Linked DNA regions of Homo sapiens. The protein of the gene in region 3 purifies or fractionates together with the protein of the main gene of each other region. This does not show direct contact. Each region holds a gene or a part of one and is shown on either strand. Other genes may lie near its edges.

Region 1 (9,187 bases), on a different chromosome or scaffold from region 3:
GGTCAGGAGTTCGAGACCAGCCTGACCAACATGGAGAAACCCCATCTCTACTAAAAATACAAAAAATTAGCCGGGCGTGGTGGCACATGCCTGTAATCCCAGCTACTCGGGAGACTGAGGCAGGAGAATCGCTTGAACCTGGGAGGCAGAGGTTGTGGTGAGCCGAGATCATGCCATTGCACTCTAGCCTGGGCAACAAGAGTGAAACTCCATCTCAAAAAGAAAACAAAACAAAACAAAACAAAACAAACTACAGCCATCTGTGAGGGAGTAGGCCCCTCGCCAGACATGGAATCTGCAGGCATCTTGATCTCAGACTTCCTAGCCTCCAGAATTGTAAGACATAAATTCTTGTTGTTTATAAGCCACCCGGTCTATAGTGTTTTGTTACAGCAGCCCAAATGGACTAAGACAGCAAAGATCACTGATTTAACCTGGAATTACAAGCCAGGATAGAGGTCAGGTTCTAGTAGGGTGGTCCCCAGCTAGGGGACCTGAACCTAGACCCTGCCTAATGACAGGAATGTGGGCCTGCTTTTCCCACTTTTTTGCTTAGACTACAAAACCCCTCCCTTTAGGACATGTCCTTCTCTGTTCATTTCATTGATTAATTGATTGATTGATTGAGACAGGGTCTGGCTTTGTTGCCCAGGCTGGAGTGCACTCGTGCAATTTCGGCTCACTGCAACCTCCACCTTCCAGGCTCAAGCCATCCTCCCACCTCAGTTTCCAGAGTAGCTGGGACTACAGGTGCTCACCACCGCGCACAGCTAATTTTTGTATTTTTTGCAGAAATGGGGTTTTGCCATGTTGCCCAGGCTGCTCCAAACTCCTGAGCTCAAGTGAATCGCCCGCCTCGGCCTCCCAAAGTGCTGGGATTACAGGTGTGAGCCACTGCACCCGGCCCTCCGTTCATTTTAGAATCCCATTCTCTTCATTTGGTTTGGACTGTCTCCTTGTCTTAATGATACACTGTTACCCAGGCGTATTAAAGAGGAATCTTTTTTTTTTTAAGAGGAATCTTTTTTGTTGAATGTGAAACATTCACTTGAGCTAGCTTAAAAAAAAGGCAGTAGGATATTCTCATTTATAAGTGGAGTTAAAGCCGGGCGCAGTGGTTCACGCCTGTAATCCCAGCACTTTGAGAGGCCAAGGTGGGTGGATCACAAGGTCAGGAGTTCAAGACAAGCCTGGTCAACATGAGGAAACCCCGTCTCTACTAAAAATACAAAAATTAGCTGGGCGTGGTGGCAGGTGCCTGTAATCCTAGCTACTCGGGAGGCTGAGGCAGGAGAATCGCTTGAACCTAGGAGGTGGAGGTTGCAGTGAGCCAAGATTGTGCCACTGCACTCCAGCCTGGGTGACAGAGCAAGACTCCGTCTTTAAAAAAAAAATGTGGAGTTAAAGAATGTGTATAATGTGCACACAGGGACATAGAATGTGAACTGATGGACATTGGAGACTTTGGAGCGGCGAGGGGTAGGGGGGCGGTCGGGGCATGGGGCGAGGGGAGGGATGAGAAATTACTTAATGGGTACAATGTACATTATTTGGGTGATGTTACACTAGAAGCCCAGACTTCACACTAAGCAATATATCCATGTATCAAAACTGCACTTGCACCCTCTAAATTTATACCAAAAAAAAAAAAGACAGGAGGGATTGATCTTAAGTCTGGAGGGGTATGCCTTGGAAGCCACAGGCAGGCGTGCACTTGGGCCTAGGTGTGCTAGAACCAGGGACTCAAAGCACCTTCAGGAGCCTCCATCTCTCCCCGCTGCTGCCCTCTGCATAACTGCCTCCTTTCTGTGAGCTCCCTGCAGCCTAGCCCTGTCTGGTTTCCCTTCCCAGGCCAAGAGGTAGAGCAGCCACCCGCTGCCACTCCTGTCAAGGACCAGCTGCTTTTGGGGCAGGGTGGGTGGTTCTAAAGATGACAGGTACTGCCGGTTCTGATTGTGGCAGAGGGAATGTTGGGTTGCAGGGAAGGGGAGAGGGGAACAGCCTGGAGATCCAGGCAGTGGTCCCCACGGAGGTGTGGACACAGAGCTGCAGGGGAAGGCCTCTCTCACCAGAACCCCTTAGTCTCCAAGATAATCAGAGGAAGCAAACTAATTGTTTTGGATCACCTATTAGATGCCAGGCACCATGCTAATCATCTTTCTTGTGATTTCCTTCCATTTTCACACATTAAAAAAAAAAAAAGACGAGAAAACAGGCCCAAAAGAGCTACATTACTTGCCCAAGGTTGCAGAGCTAGAAGTAGAGAGGCTGGAATTCAGCCCATGGATCATTCCACTCTACCACACTGTCCCTGGAACCTGGGTCAGAGCCACAGTCAGTATCAGTATCACTGAAAGTGCCTGTTATGACCTGGCCAGCCCAGTATCATCACAGGTGACTGTGGAAATGTCCCTGGTTCCAGAAAAACAGGATTTTCAAACATGGCTCATTGTATCCGCTCACTTGGATTCAGCTCAGCCCAAGATAAATATGGCCAGTATTGGTGGCTGATGAGCAGAGCCCCTTGACGGCAGAGGCAGGACCAGGTGAAGAGCCAGGCAACCTGGTCTCCTGAGATAGGTCAGCAGGTGGTGAGTCAGGGGGCTATAAACAGCCTGTGGCCCCAGCCAGCACTGCCCAGATACTCAGCTGATGAAACCCCTTGTAACCCCCTGTGTGCCCCTGCCTGGCTTGGGGAGGAGCATGTCAGCGCTCCTCGGGGAGGGGGCCCTACTTGGCAGGCCGGGCCCAGCATTGTGCACGGTCTGTTCCAGCCTGGCTGGCCAGGCCCAGGGCCTGGGCTCATGGGCTATATTGAGGGCTGAGTCACCAGCCCGCGCCTGGGTCAGGCTGAGTGTCACTGGCTGCTGGGGCCTGAGTCAGGCCCCGATTTATCCTGGAGAGCAACAGGCTCAGGTTTCTGAGGACGGTTGCGGGGGGTGACGGGAATCATCCTTTGGCACTCTGTACCCTCCTCTCCTCTGCCAACCATTCACTTGATCCCCTGGGACCCGCACACTGACCTCCCCTGGAGCGAGCTCTTGAGTCAGAGGGAAAGCAAGGGAAGCTACGCTGGGAGTTCCTTCTCCCCTCCCTGGCTTCCTCCGGCCTCTCCACCTGAACAGAGGCGCTCAGCTGGCTGGGGGACCTCAGATAATGCCTGCAAAACAGGACTGTGGACCATTAGGGTCTGTAAAGGGGCTGTCAGCTCCGAGCTACCTCACCTTAACCCTTTCTCCTCCCCAGCAGCTCAAAGAGGAATGCATCCTTTCTCAGATCTGTGTCTCAGTTTACTCACCAGGGATTCAGAGGCAGCACTGCTGAACCCTGAGCCCTTGGCACATCAGGTTGGCTGTCAGAAGTCGGCCTTTGTACATACACAGTTCCCTTGTGAGGCCCAGCTGCGTGTCCTAGGAGCGGGGCCTCTCTCCACAGCAGAGCTCAGCCTCTCAAGTGTATGGACAGCACGGGTGCCTGATGGGTGGATTTAGCCATGAGTTGAAGGTGGCTTGGGGAGAATGAGAGTTCTAGAGATAGGGAGAAGGGGTTGCCAATAGGAGAGTGGAATTCCTGAGCACCTCGTCACAGGCAGCCGACAGAACATGAGCCGCAGGGCCCAGGCTATTTATACCTCGCCTGTCACTATCAGGGTCCCCACAGCTCCCCCCACCTCCAGCCACACACAGCAGGTCCTTTTGCTCTTTCTGGTCCCTTCTCTACTCCTCCCCCTCCCTACCTAAGGACCAGGCAATTTCATTCATAGACCCCTGTCATCATAAGCATTGCCCCCACAGAACCCTGACACTTTTTCCTCAGCTCCGTAACAGGGGGTGCCCTCATTGGCCCTTGGGGGAAAGAGCCCCCAAAGATGCTCACTATCCCTTCTTTTACACCAGGTCTAGGGGTAGAAGAGGAATTAGATATAATGATTCATCTAAAAGGGCCCAGAACCTTCCCTGGCTTAAAGAAACTTCTCAGGCTCAGATATGGCCTCCTAGCCAGCTCAGCTAGACTTACTAGGTCTAGAAGGATGGGAAAGCTGAAGACACATGGCTTGAAAAAGGGGGAACTGGGAGATATGGCTGCACGTATGTTACAAAGTTGCAGAATGGATCCTCTCCTTATAGAAATACATTCTCTAGGCCCAGCACGGTGGCTCACGCCTGTAATCCCAGCACTTTGGGAGGCTGAGGCGTGCAGATCACCTGAGGTCGGGAGTTCGAGACCAGCCTGACCAACATGGAGAAACCCCGTTTCTACTAAAAATACAAAATTAGCTGGGCGTGGTGGTGCATGCCTGTAATCCCAGCTATTTGGGAGGCTAAGGCAGGAGAATTGCTTGAACCTGGGAGACAGAGGTTGCGGTGAGCAGAGATCATGCCATTGCACTCCAGCCTGGGTAACAAGAGCAAAACTCCATCTCAAAAAAAAAAAAAAAAAAAAAAGAAAAAAGAAAAAGAAATACGTTCTCTAGCTCTTTCTCCTCACCCCAGGCCAGAGTCTGTTTGGGTGCCTCGGTTTCCCTGCTGTTCTATTCCCCAGGCCTGCAGCCTTTGGCTTGCCCTGAGTGCAGCTTTGCCTGGGCATCCCAGCTGGCTCCCTTAGGCTCTCCCTGACCACTCTGCCCCTGGTCCTGCCTACCCACCTGGTCACATTTCCCCCTGGCTGCTCTGGCTGGGGCTCTCCCTGTTTCTGCCTGGCTGACCCACCCTTTCCCTGGCAGGATCTGCCCTGTGGCCCAAATGGGCATGTTGCCCAGGGGGCTCCCTGGCACTATGGGGGAAGAGTCTCTCCTTCCCCTCTTATCATCTCAGTTGAGTCAGACTTGGGGGAGGGGGATACACAGTGTGAGTCACTGGGTACCCTTTTCCTGAGCTCAGCTTCATACCGAGGCGATGAGGCCAAACGGGCTGGTGACAGGGACACTGAGTCAGGGGCAGGGGCCCCGGTCTTACTCCTGGGCCTCTGGATTTGGGCCCTACATGAGGCTTTTCTATCTGTAAAGTCAAGCAATGGCTGGGAGGCACACACAACCCCCCGCCCCCCCGCAGGCTTCTCCTTCATTGGCCCGGGCAAGGTCCCTGCTTCCTCTCAGGCCGTCTCTGCACAAGCACACACACTTCCCTTCCCTGTCCACAGGTGGACAATGCCCTGGGCTAGGAGCCAGCCCTCGCAGGCCCTGTCAACAGCCTGCCACCAACTAGTCTAGAAAATTCTGTGAACACCAGATCAGTGGGTTTTGCCCTAATCACTGGCCTCAGTTTCCCCATTTACCTCTTCAGCCCGTGCGGGGTGTGGAGGGAGCATATTTCATTCCTGACAGTTTGGTGTGTTGGGTGTGGATGGAGAACTGTCGGCCCTCCCCGCCACCTTCCAGCGCGGCGGCACCGGGGGCCCAGGGGGTGGGCGCCCTCAACCCCGTCCCGCCGCCCGGGCGGCGCGGGGGAGGGGCGGCGGGGGCGGGGCGTCCTGTGCGGCGCGGCCCCCACCCGCGGGCCGGGCGGCATTCCTGGGAGGCCGGCGCTCTGACGTGGACCCGGGGGCCGCGGGCGCGGCGGGGGGGCGGCGGTCCGGGGGCTTCTTAAACCCCCCGCCCCGGCCCAGCCCGCCCTTCCCGAGCACCGCTCCGGCCCTGGAGGGAGAGAGAGCCAGAGAGCGGCCGAGCGCCTAGGAGGCCCGCCGAGCCTCGCCGAGCCCCGCCAGCCCCGGCGCGAGAGAAGTTGGAGAGGAGAGCAGCGCAGCGCAGCGAGTCCCGTGGTCGCGCCCCAACAGCGCCCGACAGCCCCCGATAGCCCAAACCGCGGCCCTAGCCCCGGCCGCACCCCCAGCCCGCGCCAGCATGATGAACAACAGCGGCTACTCAGACGCCGGCCTCGGCCTGGGCGATGAGACAGACGAGATGCCGTCCACGGAGAAGGACCTGGCGGAGGACGCGCCGTGGAAGAAGATCCAGCAGAACACATTCACGCGCTGGTGCAATGAGCACCTCAAGTGCGTGGGCAAGCGCCTGACCGACCTGCAGCGCGACCTCAGCGACGGGCTCCGGCTCATCGCGCTGCTCGAGGTGCTCAGCCAGAAGCGCATGTACCGCAAGTTCCATCCGCGCCCCAACTTCCGCCAAATGAAGCTGGAGAACGTGTCCGTGGCCCTCGAGTTCCTCGAGCGCGAGCACATCAAGCTCGTGTCCATAGGTCAGTGCCGGGGGCGAGGGCACGGGCGCTGCGGGGATAGGGTCGTCCCATGGGGCAGGGGCACAGGTGCGGGGTGGGCGCGCGGGGAGCTGAGAGACAGGGCGGAGGGCACCCCCCGGTATAGAGAGAAGACCCTGGCCCCGGCCCTCCCACCCATCGACAAGGGCCATGGGCACTGCCTGCACACCCCTCTGGGGACAGCGAGCACTCCCTGGGTGCCCCGGGGAGTCCAGGCCTTAGGGTTTGCGAGCCCTCCAGCTGCCGCCTCCCCATGCACATTCCCACCTCCCGCCTCGGCTCACCGTTCCCTTTCCTTCCATCGGGCAACCCTAGCCCACACTCGGGAGGACAGAACCAGTGCCTGTCACTGATTCCTGGGGGCATCTCCCCGCCCCCAACAAAACAAGTGGCTTCCCAGCTTCACAGCCCCTCCGCGGGCTGGGAGAGGGCTGAAGACAGGTCCCCAACCACTGCCCGCGTCTGCGGGCTCTGGGGCCGAGGGGAGCTGGCGCGGGAGGCCCTCTTCGTGCATGTGCTCAGCAGCTGGGTTCAGGCCCGGGGGCCAGGACAGGCAGGGCCCAGCCTCAGAAACCTAAAAAGGCACTGAGCGAGCGCGGGGAGACTTAACCCCTGTCTGTCCTCCTCCTGCTTCAGCCTGCGGTGGAGGGGGCTTCCGCAAGTCCAGGCCCTGCCCCAGCCCACCCCCTACCGCGGGATTGGCTGCAGCTAACGGTCTGGGCTGCGGGGAGGGAGGGAAAGGCCTGTGGAAGGGAGGAAGTCTTTGAGTGTAACCAGATTTGGAAGGTGTGTAGTGCAGGGTGGGGGCGGGGAGGCACTCTAGTCTTGGGAGCAGAGACGCCAAGGGTGGGCTTGGAGTGGCAGGAGGCTGTCCTGCCCTCAGAGTCCTGCAGTCATCCCTGAGGCTGGGGGCCTGGGGAAGATCCCCCCGCCCACCCCTGTGGAGAGCTCTTAAGAACCCTGCTGGGATTTGCAGGACGAGGTCCTTGGACGGTGCACCCCACGGCCCCAGGAGGGGAGTTTCATGTGGGGCCAGGTGGGCCCCACACAGGATGTTCCCTGAGATTTCTCCAGATGACTTGATGTCTGTCAGCCCCACTCTCCCTTGGGGCCATCTCTAGGCCTCCTGATATAGCAGCTGAGGTCAGCCCAGGGCCCTTTGCCCCGTCCAGTCCCCTCCCTAGCCCTTACCCCCTCCTGCCCCAATACTGCCCCCCCACCCCACCCGCCTGCCCTGTCCTGGAAATAGCCCTGCCTCCGTGACACAGCAGATGTCTCTGAGCTTTCCAGAAGGACAAGGCTGAGGGCAGGGGGTGGGGGAGGGAGCCTGGAGTGTGTAGTGAGACTGAGGGCTACGTGATGGAGGCTGAGGGGTCAGAGAGGAGTCAGTCCTGGGCCGGCATCCTCAGCAGGCTGGGTTTTGAAAGGCAGGACTGACTGTACCAGGTGGGGTCTGGGGGAAGAGCCGGAGGCTTCGGCAAGACATATAGGAAACCGCTCAGCCTTCCCCTCCCCTCCAGTCTGCGGGGGCTCTCGGCCCCTCTCCAGGCCTCGTCCTTCCTGAGCACACCTCTCCCCTCCCCCGTGGCGGTGCCTGGCTCCAGCCCCCTTGGCTCAGCAGAGGAGGGGCTGGCTCAGAGCAGAGGGGAAGAAGCAAAAGCTGGTTTGAGGGTGGGAGGGAAGCTCCCTGGTTCCCGCTGGGAGGAAGGGGAGGCAGTCCCCATTTGGGCCAAGTGGCTCACTGGCGCTGATGAGATAAGCTGTCAGCAATTCAGCTGCCGGCCCCAGGCTGAGGCTGGAGGGGAGGGGACACCGGCAGCGACCAGCTGGGGCGCCCCACCATGAGGAGGTTCAAAGGGGCTGCCCACGAGGCAGGGGCATCCTGCTTCTGCTAGCTCCCCTACTCCATTTAGTGGTGGAAAGGGGCTATCCATGGGGCCACCTTCTGAGTATTGTCTCAGCACCGAAATCGAGCATCTGGGCACCTCAGGGGGTGTCAGAAAGACTCCCCACTTCTCTTTCCAGGAGGGAAGTCAGGGTCTGGAGTAGCAGCTGGGATCCAAGCCCACCTGAAGAAGGGGCACTGAGCCCAGGTTAAAGGAGCTGTGCCCTTCATATCCTCACCACCTTGTCCTGGCCCCCCGTTGCCCCTCGTTCCCTCCGAACAAAGAGGCCTATGAGGCAGCTCTGTCTCGCAGCTGTTCCCCAGTTGCTATTCCTTCTCCTGGAGCCAACAACCAAGGGAGGGGCGGGAGGGGGCAGCAGCTGTCCCAGCACCTCCCTAGGCCCAGCCCTCTCCTCCCCCTCCATTTGAGGCCTGGGGTGGCCTCGGGAACTAGCTGTCTGGCTCCTCCCACTCCTTTGGGGGTATCCCTAGGCAGATGGAGAAGTGGCTTGGTGAGCCCTGGTGGCGCTGAGCTCCTCTCCTCTGCCTGGCCTCCGAGAGGGAGGAGGGAGAGGGAGGTCATTGCTTCCAGAGTGGGACTTGGGGCCCCACTGCCCTTCTCCTGCCCCAAGCCTGGACCACTTGCTGTCTGGCCCAGGGCCAGTTGCTGGGGAGAAACTTCCCTCTCCAGCAAATATGAATGACCACCCTCCCCATATACACACCGCCCCCCCCAACCCCTGCAGCCTCAAGGCTTCCTGCCCAGGGGTCTGGCTCCAGTTTGCAAGAAGTACTTCTGGGCGTGTGAGCTTTGGAGGCTGTCGGGGTTGTGAGAGGCTGGGGGCACTGGGGCATCCAGACTGTGTGAAAGTGTTGGAGCCTGTGTGTTTGAGAGAAAGCACCGGGAGGCAGGGAGTGAGTGTGTCATGGAATCTGAAAGCTGCCAAACCATTGTGCTGCAGTGGAGCCAGGGGAAGGGGGTGGGCTGGGGAGCTGCTGGGGAAGGAAGGATGAATCAGTGACAGGGTGGGGGAGCCCAGGCGGCCAGAGCCCCAGCCAGAGGGACAGGGAGACTGAGGCACCCCTCCCGGGG
Region 2 (4,110 bases), on a different chromosome or scaffold from region 3:
AATTTCCAGGTTCTCCCAGGCCAGTCCAGTAATAACTCACATACTCTGAGCAATAAAATCAAACAATTCCTAGAGAAAGGATAAGCAGATGACCACAAAGCTGAAAATAATGTACAATCTCATTTATAGGATTCTACTTTCCAGTTTACCTGGCACGCACTAAGAAAAAGTTACTTATGACCTGCCCTACAAATCTTTCACATGGCTACACCTAACCAATATAATTTTTAAATTACTGAATTAGTGCATTTGGTGTATGGGGTCCGTCGTCCTATCTGTGGGCAGGTAAACACCTTGAGATGGCCATATACTCAGTCATCCCACAGATGCTGACTGAGTGCCTACAAAGTGTTGGATTCAGCTCTGTGCAACAAGCCAGCAGGAGCCCCAATATCTTAGCACTACAAGACAAGCTCCCAGAGTCTTCACCGGCTGGAAGAGCAAGCTGTGTATAGAAAAGAGGGTATCTATTGAAGGACATGAAAGAAACTGGTTAACCATCATTTGAGGGACTGGGGGTTAAGGGGGAGAGGAAAAATTACTTTTTACTCTTATCTTTTTGTGATTTGTAAATTGGTTCTCTTAACCACATGCATGACACATTTGAAAAACGTTTTCTACAAGAAAAACGGGTGGGAACAATTACATAGAAATACTCTAATCTCATGCAAAAAGTCCGCATTACCAACTGGGTTGACTAATGGGGGAAGTTTAGCCTAGCTATCAAAAAAACTCAGCTTCTACTCAGTCCTACTGAATAGAATTTCTGAGTAGAATCCTACAGATACTAACTCGACTTTTTCTGCTTCAATACTCTACCAGTGACACACTTGCACACACAAAACTATTCATTTCTGATGCTATGGTGGAGAGGGCTGCGAAACTGCCCCTCACACCTCCATGGCCCTTCTTCAAGAAGGGGAGGATCCACTCACACCTGAAAGCCACTTGGGATGTCTCAGAGGCCATTTTCATGTTGACAGTAACTTGTGAAGCAATTAATTATGTGTGGGAAGCAGATTTGCAGGGCAAGAGTTCTTAGCTAGCCCTCAGCTAACTCCTGAAGTTCAAGCTAGCTTTCGGCAAAAGCCCAAGACAAGGAATCATATCATCTACTACAACATTCTCACACGCCAAAACCAGTTTGCCTTCAAACTCATTTTACAGAACAGATGATTCTAAAGATCTATAAATTTTAATTGTATGTCACTGAATTCCTAACAGCACTTAACAGTTTCTTTGAAAAATTTCTTAACAGAACGTCAGAGTATTGCAACACTTTATTAAGAGTATTGGCTTTGAATCAGTAGCTGAAGTAACAATTGCATGAAGCCAGATTAGGTGCACTGCATAATACCCATACTCGATTTATTGACATTACTTAGCAATTTACTGGACAAAAGTCAAACTTTTTTGTTTTTTATTAAGCACATTCCACAGTACAAAGCTGTCATGAATAATATCTGTACAATTTAACAGTTTCAATAGCTGTTCAGACACAAATTTATTTCAAACAGATAATTGGCAAACATAATTAATTACAAGTTAGAATTAGACTATCCCAGTGCTTTAAAACATTAATATAGCAGTAATTTACATTTGCTCAGTTATGGTTAGCAAAATAAAGTCCAGAGTATGGCTGGGAATTACTATTATAATCCCAGAAAGTCAGAACTCCTTGGGTGCCAAAGTCCCCTGCTATAATTTAGTAGGCACAATTCAAAGGTTGTCTGCATATTCAAAGGCCATCATCTCCCAAGGAACGAGGGGAACTTCTATATTAAACATGCAAAAACAACAAAAAATCCATTCATTCATTCAGAATTGCCTCCTCCCCTGCCCCCTCCCTTCCCCCTGGGCTTTCCTAACCAGTTTGATATTGAAGCTGTAGGATGAAAAGTGGTCAAAGCTAAATCACTTTCACAACCACCATCAAGCTTACAACATCCACCTTATGAATGGAGGTTTATTGTTTACACTTTGAGACTCAACCTCTCAAAAACATAAATTAATTTAGTAACATGGGAAGGAAGGATTTTATTTTTAAAAGAAAAACTAAAAAAGCAAAGCCAACTCAATAAACAAATCACATACACACACACTGATCCCCACACCGTTCTCAATGCAAAGGACAAATCAGAGCCCAGGGCCTTCCCTTTAGTAGTAGAGTGTGCTTCCACGGGAAGAGGTTTACTTTATAGGAGGCTGTTTATTGGTCCTTTAAAATGTTATTGACATTCCTTGATCTTTGGAAACAATGGCGAAGGGCAAATCAAACCTAATATTGAATAAGGGAGAAGGAGTGCCAATTGGATGCCAACGTCCTTTCCATGCACTGTCAGGGCAACAGTGCCATTTACACATTTGGGCTGTGTCGTAGGGAGGACTTGGGAGCTTTGAGAACCTGCTGGGGCCACAGCAGCAGCTGACACCAGAGATGACTGGGGTGGCATTCATGGGCTTGAGGCTTCACTCCACTTCAGAGCACCCACCCCTCAGCATGGGCCTCTGAACCAGCCTGACCTGCCCTGCAGGCTCCAACACACCAGCAGGCCCTGCCAGAACCTTGGCAAGGCCAGGATGCATGAATTCCAGAGCCAAGACAGCCCGTCAACAGGGCCTTCTTATTTCCCCTTCCCAGGGCCACGACTGCACAGAATAATGATTTTTGACAGCGAAGCCAAATGAATACTATGGGAGGTGACCACTTGTACTCAGGAGTACTTATGAGAAAAAGAATAAGAACAAAAAATGTTTAAGGTACCTCTCTATTGTATAATATATACTCCACAACAAATAAAACATTTTGGTGTTAAACCTTAGAAATTACATTTTAAAACAAGATTCTCATTAAAAACACACACAAACCACACACACGCAATGACAACAACAAAATAAAAACACTGTATGAATACTGCAGGAAGGGTTCTAGGTAATCCACATCAACCCAGGTATCAGGTTCTTGAGCCCAGCCCATGGCTAAGTGCGAACACACTCTGTATTAGTGTCTCAAGCACAGGGGGCCCTGACTCCAGCAACTTTGAGGTTAAACTGTTATGTACATTATATCTACATGCGAATACAGTATTTTAAATTAGGAGGCAAGCACACGTATAAAGGTGTTACTCTACCAAATATCAGGAGATGGTTGGGGGACAGAGAACAGTTAATAAAAGAAAGAGCTATATTACCTGTTGGTAGATAATATAACTGACTTATAGTTCTTTAAATTAAAAGAAATTGGTACAGAAAGGAAGTATAATCCCAAAAATATTACTAAAACAATCCAGAGAAAATTTTCCACTGTCCAACATGTTCCTAATACAACAAGTCAGAATTCATAATGACTTGGACGGTCAAAAGGAGAATGCTAACTTTTGAAAATGAAAGCCCTGGACATTCTGGGTAGGTGTTTGGCACCCAAAATTTCACTGAAGAAGAATGCTGTTTCTTAATATCAAACCAAAGTGCAAAGCAATATAAATTAGAGGCCAAGTCTTCTCTTGACGGTCGATTTACTTCTGTAAAACAGATTCTATGTTCCTTTTCTATGAACAATTTACATTTGAAACATTAGATTTTTTCACTGATGAGGGAAGGAAACGGGCTTCTGTTCTACTTGAAGCCGGGGAAGCTAAGGTCTCCTTCTCAAAGGAGAGCCGGAATCAGAGGTGAGAAATGTCGGTACTTGAAGAGTTAGGCTGCTTTGCATCTACCCAGCGTCTAGAACCAATTCCAGCTTCATAACTCAGCTGTGAACGAACTCCCTTAGGCATTTGGTAGCCACGTAGCCAGTAGTTCAAGACTAGAAAACCCTGAGGAAAGAAAAACAGAAGCAAAGGGAGTGTGGGTGAACATTCCGTTTAGATGAGAATACACACACTCCACTCCACCCCCTGCACACAGCTACATGCAAAACTTATTAGCATTAACAGCAGAAGCTGTAAGTTGTTCTGAGTGTACTACATACCAGGTATCACATTTATTTCAACCTCACAACAATCCTGTGAGGAAGAAACTATTATGACACCTGCTTCACAAATAAGAGAACTAAGGCTCAGAAAGGCTAAGTGTTTGGTTCAAAGAGTCAACAAGTGACAGAGAGGGGAT
Region 3 (8,520 bases):
CCAAACTCAGAATCAGATGGCCAGTAGTCGAATCCACTTGCACCAGTTAGTGACCGTATGACTGAGCACATCATCTAACCTCTCTGGGTCCCAGTTTCTTCACCTGTAAAGGGTATTGATGATGCTTTTTGTGCCCACCTCCCAAGGTTGTTGTGAGGGTCAGTTCATTTACTAATGCAACAAGGAGTTATTCTGTGCCTACTGTGCTCAGCATCAAGAATTCAGTGGTGAGCAAAACTGGCTGGTCCTTGTCCTCATGGTGCAGATTGGCACGTTTGCTTTATAATTCATAACGCATCAGCCTTGCAAATGCAGGTTTTTACCTTCCTTGTCTATCTGTAGACTATGAATAAGGAGGTGACTTGTCGATATTCCTTCCTGCTGCATGGACCATGTGCACTCAGCTCAGGTGAGATCTTTTTCTAGAGAAAGTGCTCTCCAGCCTCTCTGCCACCTACACTGGTGAAGGATGGAGTGGCTTCTATGGGTGTACTCTGTGGCCTTTATAGCAGCTACAGGCAAACCACCAGGACCAGGGCCCCCAGAGTGTCCTCTGCCAAACCTTTCTCCTCACTCTCATGCCTTCTCTTCCCAGGTGGCCATCAAGTCAATCCGGAAGGACAAAATCAAAGATGAGCAAGATCTGATGCACATACGGAGGGAGATTGAGATCATGTCATCACTCAACCACCCTCACATCATTGCCATCCATGAAGGTACAGTGGGCACTTAAAGCTGGAACTTGGGGGTCTATGTGTGTGCATGTGTGTGTTCACATGCGTATGTACATGTGTCAGAAGAAACAACATAAAGAAGTAAAAAAAATATAGGCTCTAGAGAAGAGCAGGAGCTGGATTTGAAACTCAGCTGTATGACTTTGCACAACTCATTGAATTTAGTCTCTGGGCCTCAGTTCCTCATTTATAAAATGGGGTAATCCCATCTACATCACAGTGTGGTTGCAAAGATCAAACTGTTTATGTCATTGAATGCTCCACTCATGGGAGGTACTCAAGGAATTGCAGGTTTTTTTGTTGTTATAATTCGGTTTTCCCTACTTGAACACTACCTTCCCAACCCAGTGAGCTCCTTAGCAATCTGGGGGAGGCTGAAACATACATAGACCTGCACCTGTCTCAGGTGCGTGGGTGCTATTCTTCATGCGTCCCAAGAGCCAGACCTCCTAGAGTCTGACCTGGGCTCTGAATCATTCCTGCCACAGGGCTGGCTCCTACCTCTCCTTGTCTTTCTTGGCCTCCTCTTCTCTGACATCAGTGCTGATTTCACCACTCCAGCTGCCCTCCTCCCCATGACCCAGACAACAAAGTGAGCAAGAGAGGGTGACGAAGGAAAGATGGGGAGCCCTCTCTTACACACACCTGTCTGCGTCGAGACTTTACATAATATCAGTTAGATGAGAAGCGAGGGATAGCAACAGGAGGGAAGAAAGGGAGACTGTAACTCTGCCCTTTGTCTGTATATTCCTGGTGGGGAAAAAAATAGAGCAGTCTCTGCTCTTGGGTCGTGTTCATAGAAAGATTAAGGGTAGAGCCTTAAGGGTAGAGCCTTAAGACATAGCCCTGTGGCTTAAGCCTGTCCCATGAAGAGCCAGGCAAGTGGCTGAGAAGGCTAATTTTATCTCTGTGTGTGCTTCCCTCAGGGAAGAGTGGGGAGACAACAAAGTATTGGTTAAGCCAGGCTGAGTGTGGTGATTGGGGTGTGTGTGTGTATATATATGTGTGTGTGTGTATATGAATTCTGCCTTACACCCATATCTCCAGCTAGGCTGAGTGTGGTGATTGGTGTGTGTGTGTCTGCATGTGTGTGCGTGTGCATGTGTGTGTGAATTGTGCCTTACACTCATATCTCCAACTGGATCTGGGAACTGAGCACTGCAGCTCAGGGTATGGCTTCTCTGGCACCTTCAGATTCAACAGACATAAGAACATCATAGTTACTGTGTGTCTGGAGGGGCTCCCCCAAATTCATCCCCTTCCTGCTACTGGCTTCAAGGGATGTGAGGTAGCGGGTGTGCCTCAGTCCTGGGAAATGACATCTAACCTAGCTGTTCTCCAAAATGTGCCCTGGCTGGCTTTTGACTCCCGATTTTATGGCACAAAGGCTGCATGCACCCTTGCAGAGATGATGAGAGCCATAGGGGTGGAGTCTCAGCCAGGCATCCCCAGGAGGCTGGGCCTCCACAGATAAGGGCCATTTATTCCTGTCCCCCTGGACAAAAGGACAGTCCTCCTGGCCATGTATCCAATTCCCTGGAAGCTGGGACTCCTCTAGGGAGAAGGCTCTTCACTTCACTCCTTCTCAGAGCCTAGACAGCATTAGCTCTGGGGCAGGCCAAGCAAGCCAAACTCATAGGACCCGTTTGACACAAAGATGCAATGTCAGGGACATACATGTTCTAATACACACCAGGCAGAAGGGCCAGTTTGGTGAACCAGCCACTCCCTACCTAGTCTTCAAGTGGCAAGAGGGCCACTCCTACCCAGAGAGATGAGCCAGCTGGGATGAGGTGGCTGCCAGGAACCCAGCCAGTCAATTAATTACCAAATATGTATTGATTGCTTCTGTGTACAAGGCCTTATGCATGAGGCCCTGCCCTGGATCCTCTGGATGGAAGTCAGAGATGGTGATGGATATCTCAGCTCTCCCTGGTGCTTTATAGTTCATGATCCACTTTAATATACTTTTATTCCCTCTTCTGATCCTCAAGACAGACATTATTATTGGCCTTATTTTTCAAATGTATGCATGAGGGCACTGATTATAAACATAACTGTGGCCAGGCGCGGTGGCTCACGCCTGTAATCCCAGCACTTTGGGAGGCCGAGGCGGGCTGATCACATGGTCAGGAGTTCAAGACCAGCCTGGCCAACATGGTGAAACCCCGTCTCTACTAAAAAATACAAAAATTAGCCTGGCATGGTGGCGCGCACCTTTAATCCCTGCTACTCGAGAGGGTGAGGCAGGAGAATCGCTTGAGCCTGGGAGGTGGAGGTTGCAGTGAGCCGAGACCACGCCACTGCACTCCAGCCTAGGTGACAGAGCGAGACTCTGTCTCAATAAATAAAGAAATAACTGTAGGTACCATTTATCGAGTGCTTGTTTATATGTCAGACCTATACCAGCTTGCTCAGCCAGCCCTGGAACTGCTGTTGACTTTTTATATTTCTCACCCCAGCCCTGTGAGGTTGCCTTATTATCCTGCTTTTCAAATGAGGAAACTGAGGCACAGTGGTTTAATGACTTGTCCAAGATCACCCAGCAAACCTGCATTCTTACTCATGTATCTAGAAGAGATTTGCCCAAGGCCACAAGGTGAAAAAGTACCAGGTTCTTGAACCAAGGAGCCTGGCCTTTCATTCCCATCTAGTGACGTCTCTGCCTTCCTGAAAGGGCAGGGTCATTTTCAGAATTCCCAAAAGCCTGAACTTCCACGGAGGCAGAGGATGAGCCAGTGTCTTTGGCCTTAACTCATGGCTCCTGGAAGATGCTGAGAACTTCCAAGGCCCTTCTTCTGCCCTTATTTGCCACCGTATAGCCCCATTAGCAGATATTCCTGGAGGGGGGTCCTGTCTGGTTTGGGGCCTGGGGTCGGGGAGGAGTGAGTCACCCCCAGTGGAGAGCAGTGCACTCTGGGAGGGCCTGACGTTCCTTGCCTTGCTCTGCCCAGTGTTTGAGAACAGCAGCAAGATCGTGATCGTCATGGAGTATGCCAGCCGGGGCGACCTTTATGACTACATCAGCGAGCGGCAGCAGCTCAGTGAGCGCGAAGCTAGGCATTTCTTCCGGCAGATCGTCTCTGCCGTGCACTATTGCCATCAGGTGAGCACCTACCTGCTCCAGCCATATTCTCAGTGGGTGGTCCCCAGGGCTCTAGGGCTGTTTTGGACCAGAGAGGTTCCATGACTTGTCCAGGATCACACAGAAACAGAGGCAAAACTAGATTCTGGACTCTCAGGGAAATGTCAGTGTCTCTGACTTTGAGTCCCTTCTCCGCGGATAGAAGGGCCCGTGATTTCTTGCAGCACATACCGATAAAGATAGGCATTCCCAGCCTACCTGTGCTCAAGCCCACTTGGCTCCCTTTGTGTTTACCTCAGTCTCCAGACTGGGCCCCTCATCATCTTCCCTTCCCTGGTGACCTTCCCGTGACTGCCCTCTCCTTCTTTCAGAACAGAGTTGTCCACCGAGATCTCAAGCTGGAGAACATCCTCTTGGATGCCAATGGGAATATCAAGGTGAGTCCCACTTCTTATTTCTAGAAGCCTCCTTGCCCACCCCAGCTTTTCTGCACTGTCCCCAGCCAAGTAGCTCTAAGCTCTTGGTGGATTCCTGAAGGAGCTGAGCAAGGCTGACCTTCATTGGTACTGGTAGGGACCTCAGCCATCATCCATTCCAACACCTCATTGTGTGGATGGAGAGCTGGAGCCTCAGCTGAGGGGTGCTTTGCACAAGATCACACAACTAGCACGTGGCTGAGCCTGGACTAGAACCAAGATCTTCTGATTCCCAGATGAGTGCTCCTTTGATGTCATAAGGCTGACAGGAGTCTAGATCTAAGGTCAGGTTTGCTACAACCTTGGGACAGGCCCGGCCTGAGTTCTTCTCATGTATGTACACACTTGCATACACACACACATGCATGCTTTAATCTGGTACAATTAGATAGCCCTTTGGAAACTTCCCACAGATGAAGGACTCCAGCTCCAGCTTCCTGCTTTCTGCAGCTGCTAGATTTCCATGCTTAAGTAGTTAAATTTAGGCATGGAGAAGTTCATGTTGATGGGATAAACTGAGATCTCAGGGCTGGAGGAAGGACATGGCACAGGGAGGCTGGCCCCTGCAGGCATCTGGGAAGGTGACGCTGCACTCTGACCCTCTTCAGAATCTTCCTGAACCCAGGACATAGTCTCTTCCAGTGGCTTTTGACCTGTACCCTGAGGTGCCCTGGTACTGAGTTCATTCCCTCTTACCAGCCAATTCCCGGAGCAGGTGGGGCTTTCTTTGATGCTGAGCAGAAGGGAGGGAAGCCAGAGCCAGTAAACCCGCATAATCAGGCACAAACATGGACAGGCATGAACTTTCCTATCTGCACCAATCATGTGCTTCATTATGGGCTTCAACTGGTAACTGCTTGATAAGAGGCCAATAAAACCATAAACAAAGGAGCCAGAGTTTCATAAACAGCCCCTCCCCACCCTGAATACACATAACCCTCTGATGTGGTGAAGAGGTGGGGAGCACCAGGGCATGGCCTCAGCCTCTAACTGAGGATAGGTGGGAAAGGGTCTCTCCGGGCAACGAGACGATGGGGTTGGGTTCTCAAGCCCTCAATATCAGATGGTTCAGGGAGTCTTGGGCTGTAACCACAGCCCTGATGTTTGTTCTGCCCTCATTATTGCTTCTTAGCTATATTGGGCTGACCCCAGGTTCCTGCCACCAAGTTCTTGCCCCGGTGTGCACACAGGAATGAGCCCTTTGCTAGGAAGGGCAGCTCAAGTCTTACGTGGTTCATTGGTTATAGGGCTTGCTTGTTCCTGAGGGCCATGCCATTATCATGAGGTGCTGGCTTTCCCCCTCCATCTGGCTGACCCTCCTTTCCATCACTAAACATCATTAGAGCCTCATGCAGGGTCTCACCTGGGCTAGCAGCTGCAGGAGAGGTGGGGGCAAGGAGGTCAGCATGGGAGTGTACAGTCTGTCTGGAAGGCAGATCTAATGAGCAGGGGCTCCAGGGAGGCATTGGAAACTCTAGGCTTCTAGAAGGAGATGGGAGACTTTCCAAGGGATATGGGCATGAGACAGCATCTCTGTAGTGGAATGCCATGTGAGCAAAGTGGTCTGGGGAGCAGTGAGGATCCTGGAGCCCCCGCAAAGCTCTGTCTAGATGCTCCTTATTGACACAGCTCCTCAGGGTTCGTTCTTCCAGGGCCTGAGCTATGCTGACAGTGCTCAGTGTGGGGTAAGGGTCATGGGGACCCTTTCCTTCTATTGGAGCTTGGGTTTCCCCAGGGTCTGGAGAAGGGCGGGCCAAGAGCTGCAGAAAAACCCAGGCCTTGACATGACCTGTGCCCGTGTTTGACTCAATCCTGCAGATTGCTGACTTCGGTCTCTCCAACCTCTACCATCAAGGCAAGTTCCTGCAGACATTCTGTGGGAGCCCCCTCTATGCCTCGCCAGAGATTGTCAATGGGAAGCCCTACACAGGCCCAGAGGTAAGTGGCCACCCTCCCCTGCCAGCCTGCCTCAGATGTTTACTATGACTTTAGATCCTGGGAGATTGATGGGCTAGTTTTCTCGTTATTCACATTTTCAGAGCACAACTCTCAAGCCTCCCAAAAAGTAGTAACTTGCCAGGTGTCTAGCCAGGAATGGCAAAACTAGAACTAGGCCGGGCACAGTGGCTCACACCTATAATCCCAGCACTTTGGGAGGCCGAGGTGGGTGGATCACTTGAGGTCAGGAGTTCGAGACTAGCCTGGCCAATGTGGTGAAACCCCATCTTTACTTAAAAAAATATAAAATTAATGGGGCTTTGTGGCACCCACCTGTAATCCCAGTTACTTGGGAGGCTGAGGCAGGAGAATCACTTGAACCTGGGAGGCAGAGGTTGCAGTGAGCCAGGATCATGCCACTGCACTCCAGTCTGGGCAACAGAGCAAGACTCCATCTCAAACAAACAAACAAACAAAAACCAAAAAAACCCCTAGAACTAGAACTTAGGTCTCCTGACTCCTAGGTTAGTTCTTTGCCTCCCTCACATTCCTCATTCCTGTTACCTTTCCCAGCACCCAGTCCAGCCTCCTGAGAGTGATGTAGAGATGATATCTGTCACAACCACCCCTTCCCCAGCCCGGAAGAGATGACCTGGCTGTAGCTCTTGTGCTTGTGGCTGTCCCTCGCAGGAAATGCGATTGACAACATCTCAGACCCCTTCTGCAGCATCCCCGTCTTGGCCCCTGGGTAGGAGAGGTGGGTCGTCCTCAGGTGTGCTGGCCTCTGAGTTCTCCAGCATGTAACATTTTCCTGTCTGGTATGGGCATCCCTGCTGACCTCCCCCATCTCTCTCAGGTGGACAGCTGGTCCCTGGGTGTTCTCCTCTACATCCTGGTGCATGGCACCATGCCCTTTGATGGGCATGACCATAAGATCCTAGTGAAACAGATCAGCAACGGGGCCTACCGGGAGCCACCTAAACCCTCTGGTGAGTAAGAGGTGTGGGCGTTCTTATCCAGGCCTGGGGTGTCCTTCACTCATTCCTAAGGCAGAAACTACACAGTGGCACTAAAGTCAAACGGGCAACAGTCCATCATGGCCCATGGTAGGTTAGGGTACCCTCCACCGTATGTCCAATGTTGAGACCTCTGGGGAAGGAGGGGATAGCTCTTTCTTTCCCACAGGGGCATGTTTGATTATATTTGGGAAGTGGTTCCTAAGGTCTCACTTAGATCTTCTTTGCTACAGTTGTCTCATTTCCTATTGCTTTTGTTCTCATCTTCAGAAATCTTTTTGTCCTTCACTATGACTCAGAAGGCAGGAAGAAGGGTGTGAGAGACCCAGTTTACCCTGAACACAGTCTCTACCCTCAGAGGGTTGAATTTCAATGGAGAGAGAGAGGATAGACACCAACATACACACAAGGGCTTATGAAGGGGTCACAGTCCTGAGGGGTCAGAGGACAGAGAGGCAGCTGGAGGAGTCAGTCCAGGAACTCTGGACTGGGGAGCTGTCCTGGGCCAAGGCATGTATAGAGCCCTAGGTTGGAAGGGACGCATCCGACCCAGGAGTATGCAGTGTCATAGCTCAAAAGGGGATGAGCTGGGGACAGGGGACAGGGAGTGCCTATTCTGGGAGCTGCCAAACTGAAGCACCTGCCTTTTGTCTTCCAGATGCCTGTGGCCTGATCCGGTGGCTGTTGATGGTGAACCCCACCCGCCGGGCCACCCTGGAGGATGTGGCCAGTCACTGGTGGGTCAACTGGGGCTACGCCACCCGAGTGGGAGAGCAGGAGGCTCCGCATGAGGGTGGGCACCCTGGCAGTGACTCTGCCCGCGCCTCCATGGCTGACTGGCTCCGGCGTTCCTCCCGCCCCCTCCTGGAGAATGGGGCCAAGGTGTGCAGCTTCTTCAAGCAGCATGCACCTGGTGGGGGAAGCACCACCCCTGGCCTGGAGCGCCAGCATTCGCTCAAGAAGTCCCGCAAGGAGAATGACATGGCCCAGTCTCTCCACAGTGACACGGCTGATGACACTGCCCATCGCCCTGGCAAGAGCAACCTCAAGCTGCCAAAGGGCATTCTCAAGAAGAAGGTGTCAGCCTCTGCAGAAGGGGTACAGGAGGACCCTCCGGAGCTCAGCCCAATCCCTGCGAGCCCAGGGCAGGCTGCCCCCCTGCTCCCCAAGAAGGGCATTCTCAAGAAGCCCCGACAGCGCGAGTCTGGCTACTACTCCTCTCCCGAGCCCAGTGAATCTGGGGAGCTCTTGGACGCAGGCGACGTGTTTGT
Region 4 (8,520 bases), on a different chromosome or scaffold from region 3:
TTAACAATAAAAAGTCTAGTGAGAAATCACTCAAATTCCATTATCTTTAAAAATCATGGTGTTATCACTGATTATTATTACTATTTTTGAGATGAGGTGTCGCTCTGTTTCCCAGGCTGGAGTGCAGTGATATGATCACAGCTCACTACAGCCTCGACCTCCTGGCCCAACTGATCCTTCTGCCTCAGCCTCCTAGTTAGCTGGGACTACAGGCATGCACCATCACATCCGACTAATTTCTTAAATTTACTGTGGAGACAGTGTCTCCCTATGTTGCCCAGGTTGGTCTTGAACTCCTGGGCTCAAGCAGTCCTCCCACCTCAGCCTCCCAGAGTGTTGGGCTTATAGGTGTGAGCCACCATGCCCGGCCTAGCATTATTTAAAAACTTTTAAGAATTGTGGTAAAAACCACGTAATATAAAATTTACCATGTAAACCATTTTTTAGAGTATATAGTTCAGTATTTTTAATTATATTCATATTGTTGTGCAAAAGATCGCTAGAACTTTTTCATCTTGCAAAAATAAAACTCTATATCCAATGAACAACTTCCTTTGTCCTCCTCTTCCTAGCTCTGGCAACAAAGGTTCTACTTTCTGTTTCTATGATACCCAAATAAAATAAGTGGAATCACACAGTTCTTGTCTTTTTGTAACTTGCTTATTTCATTTAGCATAACGCCCTTGTTCCCCAAATTTTAAGATTAATTTTCCAAAGTAAAAATATCTTTTTAAAGATAAAAAAGATTAAAATATATAGAAAGATATTCAGAAATATCTTTCTGACTATGGTATTGTAAAGTTCACATAATGGTATACAAAGTTCCTGTGTAATTCCTCATCCCTCCATTCTCTAGATAACCACTGTTATCTAACCAACCTTTTCTGGACACATAATATCTATGTGAATATAGAAAATATTGATCTATGCACATACATTGCACCTTATTTATTTATCTACATCCATTCTTCCTTTTTCTCATGGTATAGCAGTTACTAGGTTTAGGTGAGATGACACATGGCCCATGTTGGTAGCAAAATGGCTGCAACAGTTCAGTGATAGGCCCTGTCTATCCTAAGCCAACTATAATCCTATCCCTATGAGGTACATCAGCCTGAGGATGAAGCTGACACAAAGGACTGCAGAATATAACTGGAGTACAATACATTTTCTTTGTTTAATCCAGTTTGACTTAGGTTTCATATTGTTATTTATATTTGTTATATTTATTTATATGTTATTCATTACTTTAAAAGAACTCTAAACAATCTAAAGTAAACAAAAACTACTTAAATTGAAAATAAAAAAACTTTTCGTCTTAGAAACAATGTTCCTCTTCATCTTAACGTATCTCATATGATTTTAACAGTAAAACTTAAAATACAGTATACATCAATATGCTTCAAAATTACAACTTTAAAAGCCAGACAATCTCCCTTCCACTCCAGCCTGGTGGGGGCTGGAGTCTGCGTGATAAGGCAATGAGAGGTGTCAGATGGGGATGGTTTACTAATTTCCTCCCCTCTTGTTTAATAAAGAAGGGACATAGGTAAATTGGGGAGTTCTGATAACTGATAACCAAAAAATTTAGGTAACAGTTAAAGCTTTAGGCCTGCAAATAATTTAACCTCAGAACCAATTCACTCCTCATTGTCTGGCCACCTAAAGATAAAATAAAATTGTGGGGTCAAAATAGGCAAACTTGGCCCTAAAATAATGTTCACCGTCACCTAGCACAGGTAACCAACTTTTGTTCACATTACTGTAGATCCTTGCTGACTAAAAAGAAATGTAATAGCTCTATTAAGGAACTTCAACTCAAAATGAAGAAAATAATATTAATATGACCAGAATGCTATTTCATGCTAGACAGTGCCAGGTTTAGACTCGTGTTGTTCAGCTCTATCCTCATATGAACAGAAATATTTTGAATATTTTTTAGCTTTCTACACAGCCAAACAATCAGGAAGGGGGTCGGGGGAACTTTCAACCCTTGCTGGCTGTGCAGCCTTGTCATTCAAACTTGCTTTAGGTCCTTCATCAGTACTGAGAGGAAAAAAATGTCTTTTAGATTCTCAACATAAAAATCTGTTGGAGACTCTAAATTTCTAAATATATGTAAAAGAAAGTTAAAAGATGCCTATATTCTCCAGAACATAACTTTGAAATAAAATCTACAGAAATAAAATCTGAGCCTACTACTTCTGGATTTCCACTACTTCTGATTATCCTTTAGATATTTTCCTTTGGCCAAGGGTACTATTTCTTTTTTTGCTTTTTCTTTTAACTCCGAAGGTTAAATGACATACATTAAATTACATCCACTTAGAGTGTACAATTTGGTGAGTTTTGGCAGTTCTGTATATCCATAAAACCACTGCTAGGATCAAGACTCAGAACATTTTCATCACCTCCAAAACATTATTTTGTGACCCTTCCCAGTCCTTTTAATCCTGATCCCCAGGCAAACACTGATATTGCATACCCAGCATGTAGGTAGAGTATGCAATAACTGCTTTGCATGAATAAACATAATAAAACGCAATTTAAAAGTAATTATTAAAAAATATGAATACTTCTCAATACAAAAAGTAATGGTATTTACCTGAGTTTCTTTCTTATTGGATCCCTCTTCTGTGTCTGATTGTTGTTCTTGTTCATTTTCATCACTCTAAAAACAGATTGCCAATTTATATTTTAGGAAATTTTAGTAATAATTTCAAAATTTATTTTTTAAAATTATTTTTGGGAGTCCTTCTCTCTCAGAATATACATTGAGACATTTGTAGATAGAATGAGATGTCTAGGATTTTCTTCTAAATAATATGGGAGTTGGGAGATGGAGTGGGAATTTAGCTGAAAAAATGAATACTGGGGGTAGGGCTCATTATACTATTATGTTACTTCTATAAAGTATATGTTTAACTTTTCTATATTAAAAATCAAAAGAAAAATAGAAAACTATTTTCCGATTTCCCCATCTGTTCTTCCCTTCTTTGTCATTTATGTATGATTTTCCCTCTCTTTTTAAACTTTTTTAAATAGACATATGCACTCTTGATTCATCAAGTTGAATATATATTTTGTCCACAGCATGGACAATGCGAAGATACTAAAACTCTTCAACTCCATTTAATACTTTCCCATATTTTTGTGCTATTGTTTTCATATGCCTTAGCTCTTTATATATTTTAAACTGCAAATGACAATGTTATTTGTTTCATGTAATTAAGTAATTAGTAATTAAGTAAAATTAAAATGGACTGAAACACTGCAATTAAAAAAAAGTTCAGAAAAAAGTTGACCTAAATATGTTGTTTATTAAAAAAAACACAAATAAATTGAAAATAACAGAAAAGATATATTATACAAAGATAATCAAAAGGAAGCTTTTCAAAAAAGCAGAATTTAAGGTCAGATATAATATTAGAGATAAAGAGGAACATATAGTGAGAGATGGGTCAGTTTAACAGGAAGACAGATGATTCCATGTTCTTTCAGTGAAAGAATAGTTAGAAATTTTCTTTAAAAAATATTTTTATAACAATAGAAGTAAATGTACTGCTACATAAAATAGCATAGATATATCTTATAAACATAACAGTTATAAAATTTATAGTTCTAGTCATATGCTCTTCAAAAACAGGCATAGTTAACTACGGTGTTAGAAATCAGGATACTAGCTGACTTTGAAAATGAGGATGATAGGGATTGAGAGGGAGAACATGGGGGCAATCTACACTGCTGTTTTTATTCATCATTCTGAGTGGTGATTACATAGATATGCTCCTATTGTGCTAATCCATTAAGCTATACATGTATGAATTATGTTTCTAAACATGCCATACTTCAATAAAAGGTTTATTTTTTAGAAAATGGAAACAAAATCAATGAATAGCAATGTCAGGCCTACAATCAAGGACCAGGAAAACACTAATTTTTACAAGACTGTTGTAATTTGATAAGCAAAGCACTGTGTCTATTTAGCATGCTTTGAGATGGAAGTAATCTGTAATGTAGATCTTATAATGATATTTATGAAAATGAAATTAAATAGACTCCTTAGAAATTCTTAAAAGATGTTTTTACAAGAAGCAGTTTACCTATTATAAAATAATCAATACATGCACTCTGAGCTTCAGACATTATTATTTCTATTCCATAATTAGGTCAGAACCACTCCTTTTAAGTAGTACCAACAATCTAAGTAGTTAACTATCCTTAAAAATAATTTTTCTTATTTAACAACTCAGAAAACACAGTGATGATTTAAGGAATATGAAATCTAAGGCATATAAGAAATTATTAGTATGTATTTTTGGACACATTAAGAATACTATCAAGAATACTATCAAATAATGTATTTTAATAGGTTCTCACATCTTGTGTCCAAAATGAAACTCCTGTAGATCTTCTTTTCTCTCTTGGTCGTCGTCGTTCTCTGATTGATTTAGGTTGTGATTTATCTTCTCCTTCTTTCTCCTCTTCTCTTTTTTCTCCCTCTGTTAAGGATTGCAATGAACCACAATATAGCAATATATCTTGACAATATTTTGCAAGGTAATTGTAAAAACAATGGGTAAAATGGGCCAGGGGACTATCTAGGGGGATGGAAGGTAGGCAGCTGCTACTACTTAGCTCCAGCCAATTGTTGGTATGTGAGAATTCAGATCCAGTGTTGCCAGGTCAGCCAACTTTTCAAGAAATGGCAAAAATCTGAAGTTTGAAGTGAGTATCTCTAATTTTAAATGTTGGTTCAACATTTTTACAAACACAATGCAGGCCTCACACATAGAAGTTTAAAGAACTGAAACATCTCAATGATCAACATGAGAAAATATATAGCTGGAAATTGGGAAAAAACTTTATTTTCTGCTGTTTATTCTACATTACTACTGATATTATCATGACTAATACTGTAAGATTTAGGCTTTAAAATATGAAATGCCTATATTTAGTACTTATATCTGATTTAAAGTAGGAATTACTCAGAATTTAAATAGAAAGTTTATATAAAATAATAGGAAATGGTAATGAGTATCAATATGCCAATATATAGTTGAGAAAGAAATGTATTTTTTAAGAAATAAGCATAAAAATGTGTTTTAGTGAGAGCATTACATGTAGTTAGTAATTTTAGTTTACAACAATTTCACAAAAAAACATTTAAATGATATGATCTACACAGTAGGCAAGAAATAGCTTAAAGCATCTGAGAAGTACTACACTAGTAAACTGCTTCTAGAAATAGTCACCCACCAGTTCGATATTAACTTTTCGTTGTAGGTGGACATGAAGATTTTTGTGAAGTATTAGGTTATAAAAATATTAGTATCAACAGCAGGCCATATTCTATTTCTGTTTTCTACTTTTCTCATTCTCAACCTTCATATTCTTTCTGTTTAGGTTCGATGAATCACAAGTTAGGATGCTGTTCCTTTACTGTTGAATTATTATTTAGGAAACCCTAATCCAAAGGATTATATGAAGAAAGCAAAGTGTTTTCAAAATTTGGTATTCTTACCTCTTTCATTTTCTTTTGTTATTCCTCTGGAGTAAGCAGAAGTTATGCCTACAAGACTATTTGGCCTGTTTAGTTGACTTGAAGCATACAGTGAACTGCTCATAGTAGAAAGTGAAGAGGATGGAGTGGTTGAACTTGAAGTTGATACTGGCCTATAACGCTGGTAAGTCTGTGAAACATTAAGATCAAAACCCATTTGAAACATTAAACACAATTAAAAACATAAAAATACTTAAAAATTCATTTCAAAGAAAAAGTAGTATACTAATCACGCCAAAGTAATTCAAATTTCCAGCTAAAATCCTTTACAGTATTTTGCATATGGTTTGTTGGTATATAAATCTCTTGTATGTTAAGGATCATAAGGACTATTCATACCATTTGACTTAAATGTGCTTTTGATATACTGTTACCTCATCATACGTTCTGGAGTACTTTTGTTTATATTCATCTTCTCTAGATGTTTCTGACTCCTTCTTTTCTTCTTGTTTCTCTTTATCTTGTTTCTCTTTTTCCTCTTTTTCTTTTTCTTCATTTTCTTGTTCTCTGGTTCGGGTAGAACGACTTCTTCCTATTGTTTTCTCAGCTTCTTGAAGATCAGTTAATGTCACTCCCTGCACACACAAAAAGATCAATATAATTATGAGATGCATTAAAGCTTGTTTCAAGGAATATTTTAGAAATAGATATATTACATACAAATGCATTAAAAGTCAAATATGCATGTTTAAAATTGGTTTGCAAATGGAAACAGCAAGTTACATTCATTCTATGAAGAATCACCATTAGCAAGCACAACGATAGGTACTGGATACTCTATGCATATAAATGTTCCCCACAAGTTCAAACTAGAGAAGAATAGCCAGTATCTGTACTGTTTGTATATTATAAATATTTATGTTTATATATATGTCTGTGTGTGTGTATATATATGTGTGTATATGTATCTATATACACATGCATGATGATTGTTAAGGCTTAAAAGAGATTTCGATAAATTTTTCAAGATTTGACCTTGAAGAACAGGTTAGATTTCAAGAAGTGAAAAGTATAAAGACAGAAAAAGTATATTAAGGCCCTAGCAAATAGTTCAGCTTGAAAGCTAAGTAATGGTAAGGATAGACAGCTGAATCTGGACTGTGGAGCTTCTTAACTGTGGGAAAGCAGAAAGACACAAAAGTATACATCATATACAGCATAATCAGAATGGCAAAACGGAGGTAAGGAGATCGCCAGCCTGAATGACATTTTCTTCATACTTGCATATTAGTTGTTTATACCTAATATACGAGCCTATTCTCTGCCCCCGATTTCCAAATATTCATAGAACTTTTAAATACTTATTAGACATCATATGATTAATTTATTCTAACCAAATACTCTGGGCCAGACACTGTATTAGGAATAAGGATTTAAAAAATACTCAAAAAGACACAAAGGCATATGCTAATTAGATGAAATACAATAGTAGCAGTGTAACCATACAAAAGGCTATGAGCAACCTTTACCTTTTAAGGATTTATTCACACTAGAATTACTAGAATAACTACAGCAACCTTTACCTTTTAAGGATTTACTCACACTATATACTGACATCAATATTTTCACAACAAAGTGAAAAAGAGAAAGGTAACTTGTTTTATGTCAGTGTGTGTATATATATTTTATATGCTACTTATGTAAGTTTTATATATTAATTACATTAACTATACCTGTGTTGATCTTCTAGATTGTCTTGCTTGTCTAGATCTTGCTTTTCTTTGGGATTCAGACTCTTCATCCCTAACAGGAGTGAGGTATGATCTACAGTAGTAAATTGAAAAATCGTTAGTTGTAAATACAATACCTGTGAATGTAAATATCTATCAATGCATATGAATAAAACATACAGGTTTAATATCTTAGTAAGTTTTAAGGAAAAGTCTTCAGAAAATGGTCTTTGAAATTCAATAATGCAATCTTATAATTTCTTTTTAGATTGGAACTAGTTATATTTTAATAATTATATTTTAACATCACATTTTAACTTCCTAACTACATTTTTTAAAATAATGTAATTTAATTTTAAGATGGAACCACATTTTTAAAAAGGATTTAGAGAACTGAAGATTAAAAATTTTAGCTCTATTGAAAAAAATAGAAGGATTTCATTTAGCCCAATTAAGCAGAATGGATAAGGAGTAAATTTTTTGTCTGTTTTTAACTGAGGAAGGTCCTCTTCTCCAGCCCTGAAAACATCCCCCAAAAGTGATAATCTAAGCATCTTACTTAATGACCTACTAAAAGGGGTTTTAAATTATTCTCTACCTACAGTATTTTCAAATATTGGAAGACAGGTATCAAATTCCTTTCTAAATCTTTTTTTTGTTTGTTTTGTTTTTTTTTGAGACAAAGTCTCGCTCTGTCGCCCAGGCTGGAGTGCAGTGGCGCGATCTCAGCTCACTGTAACCTCTGCCTCCCGGGTTCAAGTGATTCTCTCACCTCAGCCTCCTGAGTAGCTGGGACTACCTGCACATACCACCACGCCCGACTAATTTTTTTATTTTTAGTGGAGATGGGGTTTCATCCATGTTGGCCAGGCTGGTCTCGAACTCCTGACCTCAAGTGATCTGCCTGTCTCGACCTCAGAGGGTGTTGGGATTAAAGGCGTGGGCCACCGCGCCCGGTCTCCCTGCATTCTTGTCAGTGTGCTCTTACTAATGACACGTCAGACAACATATTATTGTTCATACTTTTGAGTGCTCTAAAAAATTCCAGTGTTTTTTTATATATAAACAGCTTTTAAATCAGCATGTTACTTCTAAGTAACTGATTTTCTGATATAAAGAACAGGACTTGGCATTTATCCTCACTAAATTTCTTCTTATAAATTTAAGCCTATGTTTCCTCTTGTCACGGGGTATGCACCTTTTCAATAGCAAGTAATCTGTGTCAAAAGTTAAGTAGGGCTGGGTGTGGTGGGTCATGCCTGTAATTCCAGCACATTGGAAGGCTGA

What was found.
Region 1: the proteins of NUAK2 (region 3) and FLNC purify together in Homo sapiens (affinity purification with mass spectrometry; 2 studies listed by BioGRID and IntAct, with this or other methods). This does not show direct contact.
Region 2: the proteins of NUAK2 (region 3) and FBXW11 purify together in Homo sapiens (co-immunoprecipitation; 4 studies listed by BioGRID and IntAct, with this or other methods). This does not show direct contact.
Region 4: the proteins of NUAK2 (region 3) and PPP1R12A purify together in Homo sapiens (affinity purification with mass spectrometry; 4 studies listed by BioGRID and IntAct, with this or other methods). This does not show direct contact.

Annotation. Positions count from the first base shown.
Region 1 is NC_000007.14:128,824,799-128,833,985, forward strand, and holds the start of FLNC (filamin-C), read left to right. Parts: upstream 1-5,607; 5' UTR 5,608-5,839; coding exon 5,840-6,191; intron 6,192-9,187.
Region 2 is NC_000005.10:171,860,287-171,864,396, forward strand, and holds the end of FBXW11 (F-box/WD repeat-containing protein 11), read right to left. Parts: intron 3,816-4,110; 3' UTR 1,263-3,815; downstream 1-1,262.
Region 3 is NC_000001.11:205,303,901-205,312,420, reverse strand, and holds part of NUAK2 (NUAK family SNF1-like kinase 2), read left to right. Parts: intron 1-595; coding exon 596-716; intron 717-3,688; coding exon 3,689-3,840; intron 3,841-4,190; coding exon 4,191-4,256; intron 4,257-6,113; coding exon 6,114-6,233; intron 6,234-6,881; exon of another isoform or gene 6,882-6,990; intron 6,991-7,089; coding exon 7,090-7,222; intron 7,223-7,907; coding exon 7,908-8,520. UniProt on the Homo sapiens protein: Stress-activated kinase involved in tolerance to glucose starvation. Induces cell-cell detachment by increasing F-actin conversion to G-actin. Expression is induced by CD95 or TNF-alpha, via NF-kappa-B.
Region 4 is NC_000012.12:79,791,258-79,799,777, forward strand, and holds part of PPP1R12A (protein phosphatase 1 regulatory subunit 12A), read right to left. Parts: intron 7,328-8,520; coding exon 7,237-7,327; intron 6,139-7,236; coding exon 5,938-6,138; intron 5,694-5,937; coding exon 5,525-5,693; intron 4,503-5,524; coding exon 4,381-4,502; intron 2,672-4,380; coding exon 2,606-2,671; intron 1-2,605. UniProt on the Homo sapiens protein: Key regulator of protein phosphatase 1C (PPP1C). Mediates binding to myosin. As part of the PPP1C complex, involved in dephosphorylation of PLK1. Capable of inhibiting HIF1AN-dependent suppression of HIF1A activity.